Regions from separate parts of the Homo sapiens genome. Here region 2 is linked to region 1. Evidence: fine-mapped expression QTL. Tissue or cell type: cerebellum. Region 1 holds a variant in brackets; the other region holds the start of a gene. All regions are shown on one strand. Distances are between the middles of the regions.

What was found. PIP is the estimated chance that this variant, and not a neighbour inherited with it, causes the effect.
Region 2: it holds the start of HOXB-AS1, and the variant in region 1 is fine-mapped to the expression of HOXB-AS1 in cerebellum (GTEx, PIP 0.93).

The regions. Positions count from the first base shown.
Region 1 is chr17:48,262,210-48,270,469 of GRCh38, reverse strand. All of the region lies in intron 4 of SKAP1 (src kinase associated phosphoprotein 1), which reads left to right. Among named protein-coding and RNA genes, the nearest start is that of SKAP1-AS2, 28 kb to the left of the region's middle. The variant C/T (reference allele first, on the strand shown) is at 5,010.
Region 2 is chr17:48,540,122-48,548,121 of GRCh38, reverse strand. HOXB-AS1 (HOXB cluster antisense RNA 1) reads right to left here and starts at 3,771. Exons shown (of 7, transcript NR_102279.1): 1 at 3,710-3,771; 2 at 2,765-3,001; 3 at 2,558-2,627. HOXB2 (homeobox B2) reads left to right here and starts at 3,013. Exons shown (of 2, transcript NM_002145.4): 1 at 3,013-3,601; 2 at 4,375-5,467. The coding sequence starts at 3,211. The coding sequence ends at 5,054. RefSeq lists an enhancer at 4,145-4,790 and a silencer at 4,598-4,887.

The DNA of each region.
Region 1 (8,260 bases):
CAGGAGGCTGAAGCAAGAGAATCGCTTGAACCCGGGAGGTGGAGGTTGCAGTGAGCCGATATTCCACCCCTGCACTCCAGCCTCAGTGACAGAGCGAGACTCTGTCGCAAAAATAAATAAATAATAAAATTAAATTAATTTAAAAAATTTTTAAAGACTGACTTGATTTTGCTAAAATTAGGTGTGTATGTGTGAGCACATGCATGTATGCAAAAAAGTTATCCAAAAGAAAAGTCACAAATACTGAGATATTTTTGATGACTTTTATTTATTTATGTTTTCCATATCGTTTAAAATTTCACTATGTTTTTCATATTTTAGGACGCAGAAAATATAATAAAGTTGTTTTCTTTTTGTTGAGACAGAGTTTCGCTCTTGTTGCCCAGGCTGGAGTGCAGTGGTGCCATCTTGGCTCACTGCAACCTCCGCCTCCTGGTTCAAGCGATACTCCTGCCTCAGCCTCCTGAGTAGCTGGGATTACAGGCATGCGCCACCATGCCTGGCTAATCTTGTATTTTTAGTAGAGACAGGGTTTCTCCATGTTGGTCGGGCAGGTCGCGAACTCCCGACCTCAGGTGATACTCCCGACCTCAGGTGATCCTCCCGCCTCAGCCTCCCAAAGTGCTGGGATTACAAGCGTGAGCCACCGCACCCGGCCTCATTTTTTAATAATAAAAAATAAATTCTTTATTAAACTCACAAATCACTTACTTTCCATCCCCACTAGATAAAAGCTCTCTTTAACTTAGTGCAGCTTATCACAGCTAGATGTAGGAGGAAGCTAAGCTAATTAATTTTGTGCCAATTTGTGAGTGATTGTTATCTCCACTAACTATCCTTCAGAACATATTTGTGTTCTCAAAATATGAATGAATCTCTAAATGAAGGCATTTAAGGTGGAATAATGATGGAGCACAATAATTTGGGCGATGTGGGTTACATAATTTTGTACAAGAATATGACCTTATAGCAGGTTAACTCTGCCTGGAAATACAGGTCCCTCAGGGTCAGCTTCCTGAAGCTCTTCCCACTTATGCCACATTCTCTAGTCCTGGTGTAGACAGATAACAGTCTCTAGTGTATCTAGTGGACTAGTATAGATCTCTAGTCCTGGTGTAGACAGATAGTTGTTACACACAGAAGTTATTTTTTGTTTTTTTTTCTCAAAGTGGTCAAATTTATTTATTTACTTTTATCACTTCTAACTTAAAATGTCCTTTCTTCTCTAGAGTTTTGTTCAACATTCAGTTCTTTTCTGGTTTTTCTATAATTTGACTTCCGTATATTTACCTTTAATTCAGGTGGAATTTATTTTGATTAGTGTGAGACAAGAATCTAAATTGATCTTGTTCCAAATTACTATTCTCTTCAAAATCATTTATTCAATCACCCTCTTCTACTTGTGGTGCATTATTTATTATATATTAGTATATTACATCTAAAATGAGCTCTTTATCCTATTCTATTGATCTATTTTTGTACCAGTACTAGGACTTATGTAGCTCTAGAATGTTTTAAGTATCGTTAGTGTCAGTCATGACTTTTCTCTTTCAAAATTTCAAAATGCTATTTTCACCCCTTTATTTTTCCTGTAAATTTCAGAATTGTTTTATCAAGTAACTTAAAAATCTTACTGTGGTTTTAGTTTGTATAGCATTACGGTTAAAAATTAACTTGAGGCCGGGCACAGTGGCTCACACCTGCGATTCCAGCACTTTGGGAGGCTGAGGCGGGTAGATCATTTGAGATCAGGAGTTCAAGACCAGCCTGGCCAACATGGTGAGACCCCGTCTCTACTAAAAATACAAAAATTAGCTGGGTATGGTGGCACCTGCCTGTAATCCCAACTACTCTGGAGGCTGAGGTAGGCGAATCACTTGAACCCAGGAGGCGGAGGTTGCAGTGAACAGAGATCACGCCACTGCACTCCAGCCTGTGCAACAGAGTGAGACTGTCTCAAAAAAAACAAAAAAAAATTAACTTGAATCTCTCCACTTCGTACCAACTCATCCTTTTCAGTCTTCCAAGTATTTTCCGCAGCAGCTCTGTGTCAGATATGACAGCAATGAATACACATTATAGGTGGTAACTCAAGGGTTTGTAAGTCAGGATTGCCTGTACTCAAGTTTTAGAAAATTGTCATTTAGGACTTTTGACTAGTAAGCACAATATGTAACACAGGTGTGGGTTTTTTGTTTTTTTTTTAAGTAGTCTTTTGTCATGTTATTATTTCAGGTCAGTATTTGGAGGGTTAGCTACTGATTGTTTGGTTGCCCAGGACTGATATCCTTTGCATCTTCTTCTCATTTTTATAATTGGCTTATTATATTGCATGAGGCCTCTTCAAGTTTTCTTTCTTTTTTTTGAAACTCTAAAGAGTAATGTCTGTCTTTCGAGGATTTGATGAGATTCATTTTGTAAAGCATTCCAAACCTTACACTGGATTATTACATTAACTACCTTTATGATCTCAGAGAAGTCATTTAAGTTCTCTGATTTTAGCTTTTCTCATCTGTAAAATGGGCATAATACAAACACAAGATAATAATGTAAAGGTACCTATAAGCAACCTCTGTATAATCACATGAGAAATGGTGTGCCTTTCCATCTCTCCCTTCCCTCCATTTATCTGTTGGTATCTATTTTGTCAGGTCCTCCCCTGCTTTGGTTCTGTAATTACCCTTCCTAACGGAGTTCCTAAACATCTCCCATGGCTCAATACTTAAGAGCAAGTGGTGAAAAGAACAGAAATATAGTAAATAATTTTGTAAGCAATCTAGTATTAAATTAATTGATATTAAATTAATCACAAATCATTTTAATAGTAGCAAATTAAACTAAGCAAGTGTGTTTGCTCTTTTAAAAAAATGGGTTTAGAAAATTATCATTTTCTAAGTTATTAATGATTAATATAGGGCAATAATTTGGGTGTTGACCTTAAGGACTTGTGTATAGAGTATCTATTAGTACCAAGTGGTAATTTGAAGTATAAATGCTGATTGTATCACCTTAGAGCCAAAATCATTGATTAAACAGGCATATTCAACATTAAAGTGTGTGTGTGTGTTTAATTAAAATTGATTTTGGAAGAATTCTCCAACTACTGTTCCTTTTGTTCAACATTATTTTTTGATTGTGAGAACAAAGTAAAATTGAGGTATTGTTTAAGTTAAATCATGTATGTTGAGAAGTATCTAATTTTGTCTTTTTTTCTCTAAGGCCTAATAACTTATATATCTACTTCATGTCTTAATTTCACTTAAAGCTAAAAAAGGCTTACTAGTGTTCATAATTCAAAAGTTGGAAATTTATCAGAAGATCCTAAATGCTGTAGGAACATTCAGAGCCCTGAGTATAGGGAAAGATGTGGAAAACAAATTTGAGGAAAATAATTATTGGCTTGGCATCACATTTTTTTCATGATAAAATGATATTCTATGTGCTAATTCTGCCATCTGCTATGTTCTATGAGGGCTTTCCTTCAAGCAGTGAAAGCATTTCGTGTTGAGTGTTAGTCTAGTCACAGAAAGAAAGAAAATTCGTGTATATTTGGACATTTCCACTTCATTCACCCAATAATTCTCTCTAGTAATTGTAAAATAGAAATATCATTTTTAAATTTCAAAAAAGAGAAAAAGAGGAATAAGAAAAGGAAAACAGGGCCGGGCACGGTGGCTCATGCCTGTAATCCCAGCACTTTGGGAGGCCGAGGCTGGTGGATCACGAGGTCAAGAGATCGAGACCATCCTGGCCAACACAGTGAAACCCTGTCTCTACTAAAAATACAAAAAATTAGCCGGGCGTTGTGGCAGGCGCCTGTAGTCCCAGCTACTCGGGAGGCTGAGGCAGGAGAATGGCGTGAACCTGGGAGGCGGAGCTTACAGTGAGTCAAGATTGCGCCACTGCACTCCAGCCTGGGTGACAGAGTGAGACTCTGTCTCAAAAAAAAAAAAAAAGAAAGTAAGAAAAGAAAAAAAGAAAAGGAAAACAGAATTTCTAAAATTAAATTGCTTTCCAGCCACAGCCTTGATTTCTTGAACTAACGGTTTCAATAGTGTATTTATTGTTATGTATAGTATAATTCGTATTTTACAGGCAACAACTATCCATCTGTTCTGATAGGTGGAAACTGTCTTTAAATAATAAAGGAGCTCCTTTCTGACACAAATGCTCTCTACCTTTGAACTAGAAATATGCAGGATGATGTTTGCACCAGCCTAACAATTTACATTAAGATCTATTTGATATAGCTTATAAAATCTATTATTTTTGCCAAATACTTCAGTTGAATAGACTAGGCTAGTGTGTGTGTGTATGTGTGTGTGTGGGTGTGTGTAGGTGTGGGTGTGTGTTTAGATTATCTCGGAAATATTTCCAGCTCACTCACAGGTTAATAATCATACAGTGATGTCAGCCAAACCAAGTGCTGACAAGGAAATGAGAGCCCTGTTCAGGAGAGAATGAGTAAATATCCCAAGAGAGGAATCAAACAGCAAGCAGTCATTTTTCATAAAGAGAAAAATCACTAAACTAAAGAAAAGAGGTTTTAAAAATAAGTTAAGTTGAAAACTTGGACAACCTAAACAGACATGCAGATGTGAAGATTCTAACAGGGGAGGCATTTGGAGCATGGCCAGCTCCCTGTTCCACCTGCCACAGGAGTTTGCCTTTGGGCAGATACAGCTCCCAAAGGTGTTTTCTCCCTAGTTTCATGGGGGGAGGGAAAGAGAAAGGTTACAGTTCGGGTGTGTTAGACACACCTCTAGCCAGAGTGGTGTTCTGAGTTATTCACATTGTTGATGACAACAATACTAGAATAAAATAAAATGTGAAAACTGTGTGCTGATTTTTAAGTACCACGTCAATATGCTTAAAAAATAATTTGAGGTTTTGTGTGTCTTTTCTGAACACAGTAACCACACACCACAGTGTCATAGCTTGCTTGCTTGCTTGCTTGCTTGCTTGCTTTTTTTTTTTTTGAGACAGGCCCAGGCTGGAGTGCAGTGGTG[C/T]GGTCTCAGCTCACTGCAACCTCCGCCTCCCAGGTTCAAGTGATTCTCCTGCCTCAGCCTCCCAAGTAGCTGGGATTACAGGCATCTGCTACCATGCCGGGCTAATTTTTTGTATTTTGAGTAGAAATGGGGTTTCACCATGTTGGCCAGGCTGGTCTTGAACTCCTGACCTCGTGATCCGCCTCCCTCAGCCTCCCAAAGTGCTGGGATTACAGGTGTGAGCCACCGCACCCAGCCATAGCTTTCTTACTAATTAAAAATTCCCAGATTTAGAGCCTTTGGAGCTTCAGTATGAACTAACTTCCCAAATTAAAACTGGATTCAGGTACGTCTGTTAACAGATTGGAATTCATTAAATCCCACCACAGACAAATCCTATAAAAAGTGTATATTGTTTCAAATAGCTGGAAAGGAGAGCAGCCTTCCCCATCACTCACCAGAGCTGTGGCTCACCCCAGTAGAGTCATGTTTTTAGCAAGGTTCCTGTGGGAGACCTGTTTATGAAAGTGGCATTTGTGATTCAGACTTCAGCTCCCCATGCCAGCTTCGGAAAGTCAAACAGATGTTTCCTCGTTGACTGCAGCATAGCTCATCACTTATCCCAAGAGGAAAATCAGAAGAGGCTGGGGACAAGTACAGTTCTGTCAGCCACAACCACAAGAAAATGGAGATGGAGGGTGTGTGTGTGTGTGTGTGTGTGTGTGTGTGTGTGTGTTTTGTAGATTTGATTAAATGTAAGTTTAAGTATTGCTTTATTTAAAGATAGAATGATTCATCATCTATAGAAAATTTTATCCTCTACCTAAATTTCCTTTTCTACTCCCTTTTCCCTCCCCATTTCCTGGCAAAGTTCAGTATCTTTATGGGTCTCTTTGGAGTACAATCTTTGTGCTTTTCAGTTTTGCCTTGGATTAATAGGTTGTCTGAAAGCAAAGCTTAGCTCCTGATTTGTTTTATAAGAATAATAAGACCAAAGTTACTTTTCATTCACACATCAAAACACATGCATACCAAGAAAACAAATAAAATGTACATTGAATCTCATATACCACAGTAATGTGGCCTGGGAATTAAACTCATTAAATGGATTTCAAAGAACTGGGTAGTATGTAGTGGAAAACAATTTTGCAGTAAGCCTGAACTAACATTAGGTAGAACATAGTAAGACCTCTTTATTTCTGATCTCTGTGTGTGTGTATATATATATGTATAAACATATATATGTATACATTTTGTATATATATATAAAGTAGTGTTGCTGATTTTTAAGCTAGATATCAAATGCTTTAGAAAATACAAAAAATCAATTTTAACCATTTCCATGTTTTTGTTTTGGACATTTATTAGATATAATCTTGCCTAATTGTAGTCTAAAGTCAGATTTTTAAGTTAGATAAAAAAAAAAAAGCTGATGTCTCTTTGCTTGGATTGAATTCCTCTAGTCCTAGGCCCTAAAACAGTAGAAGGGTTGCGGCTGGTTTAGAAGTTTCTCTGCAAATGTACGTCTCTGTCTCTCCCTTTCAGACACTCTCGTTTGCTCTCCTTTCTTGCTCTGTGCAAACGCAGAGTGGTGTCTGTGTTTCAGGAAAAGAATGTGTGTTAAAAGAACTAATGGTCCGACTGTCCATCAGACTGGGCAGCAATGGAGGTCATCTGGCGGTCAAAACCAAATAATTTCAGCCTGTTCCTAAAGCCCCTGAAGCTGTTGACTCGATGACTGGAGTTCACCGCCTCTTGTTGCTTCTGTATCCTCTGAAACCTGGGACCTTTTTTTTGGAGACAAGAACGGACATATTTTCTCCATAGCAACTGTGTGCACAGTGCCCACCATTCAGCATTTGCTCAGGTTAGCTTGGCTAAAGTATACAGTCAGTGCTCCCTCTTGATACGTGTCTGCCCTGAATAGAAGATAGATCAGATTCTAAACCTAGAGGCCCCCAAAATATTGGAAGAGTCAGGATACTTGTGCATGTTTGAAGCTCATTGTTATACAGAAAATTTAAATATTTAAAAATAGAAAATATTTGTCTGCTTTTATAAAGAGACCCAATGTTCTTAATGCAAAACTTTCTACAGGCACATATTTTAAGGTGACTTCCAAGTTTCCACATTCATATGGAACAGATGGGAATGGAAGTAGTTTCAGTGTGCTGACAACTCCATTAAAAATGTTTTAAAATCCATAATCCATAAATCTGAACCACATATTGGTTATACTCATAGCCCTTTCAGTATTTCTTGTACCCTATTTGTGAATACCACCACCTGCTGGTAGTTAATGACAAGCTCTCACTTTGTTTACTGAAGAATCAACCTAAAAGTCAGTATTAAGTAAAATTTAAATGTTTTTAAGTAGGTACAATTTTGAGGTGAAAATCTATTTACTGTGTTAGTTTGAAACATCCTAACCACAATTAATTTGCAAAAACTTTTAAACAGACATTTGAAAAAAAATGCACATGAAATACTGTTTTGAAATGAAAGCTATTCTTAAATGATAACAATTTTTATTATCTTTTAGCTTCTTTTTCCTTGCTGACAACATTTCAAAGTAATGTTACAGATATCCACACCTTCAAGTCTGAGTTTCATCTCTTCTACTTCTTTTGTTTGCCTGCTTTCTAAAAGAAGTGTGTGTGTGCAATGAAATACCAAGGAGGAGGGACAGGAAAGCATGGAAAATCTACAAGCTGAATAATTAAGTGTTGACTTCTGAAGATTATGTCTGTGACTGAGGGATTTACCACTCTTACTTTGGCATTGGCTCATAAAACATATGTTCACAAAATCTGTTTTATGGGCTTTTTAACAGGATAAGAAATTTAAAATTTACAACAGAATAGGAAAATCAAATCTTCATGCAATGAGATTACAATATACATTGTTTATTTTAATTGTTCAAGTTTTTACTCATCAAACAGAAATATACTATAATACTTTACAATAAAATATAATGTCACATTGCCCAAAACAGTGAATGACAGAATTTTGTGGATTAAGGATATGGATTAAGGTAATCCAAAACTGCAGTTTATTAAACTTCCCCCCCAAAAAACCATGTGTTGTTCTTATTCTGAAGCTATGCTCTTGGAGTTTTCTGGCTTTCTTAAAAATGCATCCCAGTCCAATTTTAATATATGCCTTTTGGTGAGTCATTTTTATGATCTCTTTGCTATCTACTGAGACTCTTAAAATGTACTGGTTTGAGGCCGAACTTGGACTGTGATTCCTTCTTCTTAAATATGGTCTTC
Region 2 (8,000 bases), 280 kb before region 1:
GGAAAACTTCATTTCTTAGTTGTGGTTCCATAAAAGTTTTATCACATTGGAGTGAAAATAGAGAAGGTCTGTCAAAGATGAAATGTCACCGCCGAGTCGCTGGAGCCGATAAGAGCGAGAAGACAGGGCGGCTGAAATATGGAGCTAATTCGTTGAAAGAGAAGCGATGGCTGCTTGCTGAAGAGCTGCATAATTCTAATTGTAAGCGATGTGCCCGCATTGCTTAATTAGGAGCATATATTTGGTGGTAGTGATGTTGGGGGAGTGAGAATCGTTCCAGGCCCTGCCTTAAAGAGAGGGCTGATTTTCATTTTTATGTTGCATCCTGGCAGTCCAAGGTTAGTAATTATAGTCTTTATGCAACAATAAATAACAATAAAAAAGCAACCTGAACTCTACGCCCTCCCCCTTCCCCACCACCAAGTAGGATTTTAACTGGACTCATCCAAGCAGCAAGCAATTTAGCATTGGGTCAGGCTATAATTTAAAGGCATAAGAGCGTGCAAAGTTTGATTGGGATCAAATAACGCTCAAGGGTTTTTCTTTCTTTCTCTTTCTCTCTTCTTCCTTGAATAACATTTTCTGAATGATATAACTAGATGAAGCACCATGTTTGGCTCTGGGGCTGGGTTGGGTTGTTATTTATCTAGCAGGAAAGAGGCCAAGAAAGAGAATTTAGCTTAAGTTTGAAAAACAGAGCTTTGGCTCGAAGCTGGAATTGCAAACAAGAAAAATAAGAACCAACTTGGCTTGGTGTTCCCTATCCTTCTCTTTGGAAGATTCCAGGCGCTCAGCTAAAGCAGCCAAAGACGTGGGTAAAATATCCGTGCTGTTAAATTCACAGCAGGACAGGGGGGCGGGGGAGGGATGTCTCTGAAAAGGAGGGTTCTCTGGGCCCCTTTTAACACCCAAGTTTTCCGCTGTTTGCTAATCTGGCCATAAAATCTGTCAGTGAGGGTTAGAGAGAGCTGTATTTCCTGCAGGGACAGTCTGCCCGAGTTGCCTGAGATAAGCTCTGGATCCTTCAGCCAGCTACAGAAGCTGTTGCTAAACTTTCAGAGGTGTTCAAGGGGGTGGCCAGAGGGAGAACCCACTCTCAGGCCTCCCTGCATGACTTCCAGACAGCTACTATTTGGATTATTCTATGCCCACCCCCATCCACACCTCTAAATGGCAAAAATTGTTTTCTTTGGAGCCTAGTTGCACACTACTGTCGCTGGCCACTTTGCCCAGGTCAGAGCAGCTCTCTCTGTTCTGAGCCCTCCAGAGCATGCCTCCTCGGTCCCTGCAGCCCCCACCTCCAACTCCCCTTTCTCCATCCTCCTCTCCCCCACCCTCATGCTTCTACTCAGACTTCTCTGTCCTTCTTTTTAAGTACTCACGCAGATGTTACACTGACAGAAAGTTTCTAGTTCCAGCTCCGGGCTCAGTTGCCATTTCTCTGCTAACCAGCCTTCTCCTCCTGGCTGGGCAGCAGAGAGAGAGGAGGGGGAGGGGAGGCCAAAGCCATGGGAGTTCTCCAGGCAAACTTTCCACCCAACTTAGCGCTTTCCCTCTGTCCCCATTTCCCATCTGTTTCCCAGCTCTCCCAGAATCACCCTTCTCTTTTGCACCCCCACCCCCACCCCCAGGCCTTTTTAAGGGATGTGAAATTTTGGCTGTTCGCTCTGCTTTCCCAAAGAGCCAAATTCTTTGATGCAATCGGAGGGAGCTGTCAGGGGGCTAAGATTGATCGCCTCATCTCCTCTCCATCCGTCTGACCCACTTATTTAAAAATCTTCCCCCAGATCGACTTTTCATTTTCTGCTTTGAGGCCTAGTTTCCCACCAATTGCTTGGGGCTCAGAGTCTTGTGCCCTCTCCCCATAGTAAATTACAACACTCTAAACTTCAGACTATCTTGGTCTCCTCAAAATAAAATAAATTTTAAAAACATTTTCCCCCAGCAGCCAGAAATGGAATATCATCTCAGTGGTCATTATTTCCACCCCTACCATCTTCAGGGAATTCTTCCTTGTCAGGGATTCTTTTTTTTTTTTTTTTCTTTTTTCTTTTTTAACTAGCACAATGGCAAAAATGGGAGGGAAAGTCTCTTTGTCCTAGGGGAAAATCTCCCCACCACACTCATGCACACACATAACGCTGATCTGAACTTTGAGAGTGCTCTAAGTTAAACCAATGGCTACCTCAGTTCTTGTTCATGTCCCTGGATATGGATACAGATACAAGCTTGAGGCTTGAGTGGGTACATGCACATCTTAGACTCTGCCTGTTTTTGGGGGATGTCACAGAGAAGCATGGAAGCCTGAAAGTGAGGAAAGCAGGGGTACATAAGGGGCAGAGGCAGTGCTGCAAACACTGGGCAGAGAAGAGAACCCAGACCATACAGCGATGGAGGCCAGAGGCCCAAAAATGCCCCTTATGCTCCATCTCACTCCTATGTGTCTGCCTGGGAGTTCCTGTCCATTTCCCAAGATTTAACTGTTGTTTTTGGAGGGTAACAGGGATAGTGGTGTGATGATTGTAAATCTCTTTCTTATTTTCACCTTAATACTGACCTTTTTCAAAGAGTGGAAGCCTCTTTCGACTCCCTCTTCCTCCAACGCGGAGATCCTCACTCATCTTTTCCTGGGGAAGGGGAGAAGGGAAGGGGATGCTGCTGGCCACGTAAAGAAGGCCTTAATTTACTCTATTAAAATACTTGGAAAAGAGGAAGGTTTCTCCCTTAGAGTCTCTTCTTTTCCAGGCTTCTGAAACCTTCTAACCTTCGAAGGGGATGAGGAAAAGGTTCCTCTAGCTTTTCTGGAGAAACGGAGGCATTGGGGAGAGAGCATGTGAGGCACTGGTGTAGGAATGGGGGCTCATGGTGTCCTGGTCGTGGTCCTCTGGTGTTTTTGAATCAATTAAACCAAATAATGCTCTCTGTTTTCCACCAGGCCCAGACGAGCGATTGGCGGAGGCCGGTCCCGTGACCACGAATTCCCTGTAATTTCGCTGGAGTCCTGGGTTTAATAGAGAGAGTCCCCATACGCTTGTATTTATCAGCAATATACAATTATAAAGGCCCAAAATTAAAAAAAAGAGAGACCGAAATCTCCCCCTCCCAAAATCGCTCCATTACATAAATCGGGGGGGGTGCAGGAGGGGGGTCCCTTCCGATCCTCCCTCCTGACGCCCCCCCCAGCAGCCCCCTCCCCCACCATTGAAAGCCATGAATTTTGAATTTGAGAGGGAGATTGGGTTTATAAACAGCCAGCCGTCGCTCGCCGAGTGTCTGACTTCCTTCCCCGCTGTCTTGGAGACATTTCAAACTTCATCAATCAAGGAGTCGACATTAATTCCTCCTCCTCCTCCTTTCGAGCAAACCTTCCCCAGCCTCCAGCCCGGCGCCTCCACCCTTCAGAGACCCAGGAGCCAAAAGCGAGCCGAAGATGGGCCTGCTCTGCCGCCGCCACCGCCGCCGCCACTCCCCGCTGCCCCCCCGGCCCCCGAGTTCCCTTGGATGAAAGAGAAGAAATCCGCCAAGAAACCCAGCCAATCCGCCACGTCTCCTTCTCCGGCCGCCTCCGCCGTTCCGGCCTCCGGGGTCGGATCGCCTGCAGGTCGGTAAGCGTGGTGGGGGTGGGGTGAGGGGCAGCTAGAAGAGGGGGAGAAAAAGCAGTGGAAGGAGGTTTAAAAAAAATGGTGGCGAGCCTGTTGGGGTTCCTTACCCCCTCCATTCCTGGGATGGGGAAGTAGAATATCCCACTGGGGTTCAGGCCTGGCCGCTAACAGCGTCTTTTTTTTTTTCTGTCTCTCTCTCTCTTTCTCTCCCTATGGCTGATTTTGGAAGCTGGTTGGGGAAACGCCTTTTTTTCTGCTAGAAGAAAATGATTTGATTGAGGTTTTCACCCGTATCTGTGTAGGGGAATGAGTATGTTGTTGCTGGGATAGACCCTAGAAGCAGAAAAGATTCGGTCCTTTCTGCCCCAACTCTAGGAGAAGAGGAAGAATTCAGAGCTAGGGAGGAAGAGGGGTGAAGAACAATCTTTCTGACCCTCGCTCCGGTTGAGTTGGAAAGTTCCGAATTGAGGGGTCCACTGGGAGGGCTTGGGAGGGGGATCTGAGGTTCCGGCGCCGAAGGGAGCCGCTCTCCGCCCCCTGCGTGGCCCGTGGGCGGCTCTGAATGCTTTGCCCTGACCCGGGCCGGGGCTGTAGACTAGAGAGGGAGAGAAGAAAACCCAAAAGCAGTAAAGCGAGCGGCTTTGGGGTGGGGGCGGGGGTGGGGTGGCGAGGAAGGGGAGAGGTGATACTGGTTTTGGAGGATGGGGTAGTCCGAACTGAGGTTGGGCTGAGTACACGGCCCGCTATGACGCCGAGCCTGTTTTCCCTGCAGATGGCCTGGGACTGCCGGAGGCTGGTGGCGGCGGGGCGCGCAGGCTGCGCACGGCTTACACCAACACGCAGCTGCTGGAACTGGAGAAGGAATTCCACTTTAATAAGTACCTGTGCCGGCCACGCCGCGTCGAGATCGCGGCCTTGCTGGACCTCACCGAAAGGCAGGTCAAAGTCTGGTTTCAGAACCGGCGCATGAAGCACAAGCGGCAGACGCAGCACCGAGAGCCGCCGGATGGGGAGCCTGCCTGCCCGGGAGCCCTGGAGGACATCTGCGACCCTGCCGAGGAACCCGCGGCCAGCCCGGGCGGCCCCTCCGCCTCGCGGGCGGCGTGGGAAGCCTGCTGTCACCCGCCGGAGGTGGTGCCGGGGGCCTTAAGCGCGGACCCCCGGCCTTTAGCCGTTCGCTTAGAGGGCGCAGGCGCGTCGAGTCCCGGCTGCGCGCTGCGCGGGGCCGGCGGGCTGGAGCCCGGGCCATTGCCAGAAGACGTCTTCTCGGGGCGCCAGGATTCACCTTTCCTTCCCGACCTCAACTTCTTCGCGGCCGACTCCTGTCTCCAGCTATCCGGAGGCCTCTCCCCTAGCCTACAGGGTTCTCTCGACAGCCCGGTCCCTTTTTCCGAGGAAGAGCTGGATTTTTTCACCAGTACGCTCTGTGCCATCGACCTGCAGTTTCCCTAACCTGTTTCCTCCTCCCGGTCCTTTCGACCCCCGCGCTCCTTGGCCGTCTACTGGAAAAATCGAGCCTCTCCCACCCTCAGTCGCATAGACTTATGTGTTTTGCTAAAATTCAGGTATTACTGAATTAGCGTTTAATCCACTCCCTTTCTTCTTCTTCTAAAATATTGGGCACTCGGTTATCTTTTAAAATTCACACAGAAAAATTCCGTTTGGTAGACTCCTTCCAATGAAATCTCAGGAATAATTAAACTCTAGGGGGACTTTCTTAAAAATAACTAGAGGGACCTATTTTCCTCTTTTTTATGTTTTAGACTGTAGATTATTTATTAAAATTCTTTAATAATAGGAAAAGGGGAAAGTATTTATTGTACATTATTTTCATAGATTAAATAAATGTCTTTATAATACCAAAACGAGTGTTTGTGTTGGGACCTAAACTCTTTCCCCGCGGCCCCAAGGCCGGTCCTCACCCCTCCAGGACCTGTGCGAAGTTGATTAGGTTCAGCGGCCCATATGGCAGCAAAGCCTCCAGGGCCGGCGAAGTCCGGGTGGTACAAAGGTGACCCGATTGATGGCCGCTTCGCCCACGGCTCCGGCAAAAGTCGGGAGTTTGCAGGAAGCTGGGTCACCTCCCCGCCCCTCAGCAGAGGGTCTTTGGTCCTGAGCGGGTGGTTCTGGGGCCTCTGCTTGGAAATAGAGATGGGCAGGTCGAGGGAGAGAGTGTACAGCGAACAGAGGAGGGTGAAAGGAGAGGAAGCCTGTGGACAGTCTTCAGGGTCGTGGCGGGGGCAGAAGTTTACTGGAATTGGGAACAATCCAAGGGCTTCCTAGGCTTTTGCTTCTTATGACCGAAGCCGGTGTAGGACCTTTTTCCGAACTCAAGAAGCCTAGGGACGCGAGGCCTGGGGCTTGAGCCGGGCCTCTTTGGGAGCTGTAGGTGGCTCTCCAAGGAGTGGAGTGGGGTCGGGGATTTTCTCGGGAAGCAGGGTCCCGCACCCAGGGATGGTAACTGGCTTCCCAGTGGGCAAGAAAAGAGGCCAGCTGAGAAATGTGGCGCTGCCGGGACACCCATGGACTCGGGCTGCTGGGGTTTGGGAGACCATCCAAGCAGCAGCCGGGCGAGAAGCCCAGGGTGGCCCGGCAGCGTCGCGAGGCGCTGGACCTGCGGGGAGAGAAGGAGGAGCGAGGAGAGCGGGAGGGAGACAGGGAAGCAAAGACGATGCTCAAAATGGCGCTGGGGCCGGGCGGCGGGCCGGGGGGGGGGCGAGGGAAGAAGCTGTGGCCGCCATGACAGCCGCTGCAGGAGGCGCCGGCCCAGCCGGGATCTGCCCCCGCCCCTGCGTCCTCCCAGCTGGATTTTCCAGAGGCCAGGGAAGAAGGGGAGCCTGGGGGGTCCCACCTTCGTTTTAGTTAGTTTGATTTTTTTATTTTTAAAGTGGAGCCCAACGGACGCTGAGGACGCGAGATGGAAGGAGAGTCCGGGTGGATGTGGGAAGGGAAGGAGAGCGGCGGGTCTGCGGGCCTGGGTGTGCCTCATCCAGTCTGACTTTTGATTCTTCGCTGTGGGATTTGAAGCCAGGCCAGAGCTTTCTCTGAATGCAGACCCACCAGTCTTGACCAACAACTTCATTTCACGTATCAACACCATGTCCTGTCTATCCCCCACCACACCCTGCCTGGTTCCTTGTAAACCTGGTAAGCGGGAAGCAAGGATCGATCTCCCCCATCTGCCTCCTGGTTTGTTCTGGGAAGGTGGAGGTTTAAAGGTCCCCGGAAAGCCATCCATCCTCCTTAGGTTTCTTTAATATTTCTCCCGCTCAGAAACAGACACTACGGGGCTATCTCCCCGGCAGATGCTGCCCTTCTCAAAAAGCAGTTTATTTCCTGGGCCTCCAGACTTTCCCCTGGACCAACAGGACCGGGATTTAGAGTACCAGTCACCCAGAGGCAGCAATTGTCAGGATAAGCCAGGAGCCAACATAGGTTGTGACACAGAGGACTAGACAGGCCCTTTGCATATTTTAAAATGGGTCCCTCAGTGTGGGAAGTACACACCTCTTAGTTAGCTGGAACTTAATCCCTTAAACTGTCTTAATATAGAATTCATCTCGTGCATTAATCTTACATCATGTTAAATTGCACTTATTTCTCTCATAAATAAATATAGAACAATTAGATGTGTTATAATAATGTCATGTATCTTATTTTCCCTCATAAAATATATAGGTATGAAATAAATTCAATATATTAAAGTAGTAATACACAGCTTATTGGCTTATGTGTTTATTTTCCCCATAAATAAGGGAATATACAATATATTAAAACTACGCTATACATCTCATTGGGCTGTGTGTTTATTTCTCCATAAAATATGCCCACAGGCAGTGTTTAACATCTTAAAAATCACAGCACACAAGCCATCTCTACACTAGCAAAATGAACAGATATTTCAGCTGGGGCTTTGATTTCTATGGACAGTCAAACTAGATAATTTGGTCTAATTAAAAATGCTCTTGCAGCTAGCTATAGCAGGTTGTTACAAAGATCAAGAATATCACAAGGATCTTGCTAATGTCCTACCTTCCAGTTTCTTTGGTCAAAATGAGAGCACCCTTCCTCAATGCCAAAAAAATGCAGAGTTGGCTCTGCAGGAGAGAATTCCTATCCCCCATCATGGTCTGCAGCACTCAAGGGCCTCCGATGCACCAGTTCTCTGCAGCCTGGCTGCTCCATGGACCAGCAGCATCAGCACTACCTATGAGCTACTTAGAAATACAGAATCTTAGGCCCCTGAATCAGACCTACTGAATCAGAATTTGCAGTTTAGCAGCTCCCCAAGTGATTTATGTACACTTAAAAGTTTGAGAAGTACTGCTAGATCACAGTGCCACCTTGCTTTCTGCCTTCCTCCATGCTTCAGAATTTTTGACTCACTTTACCTGGCCC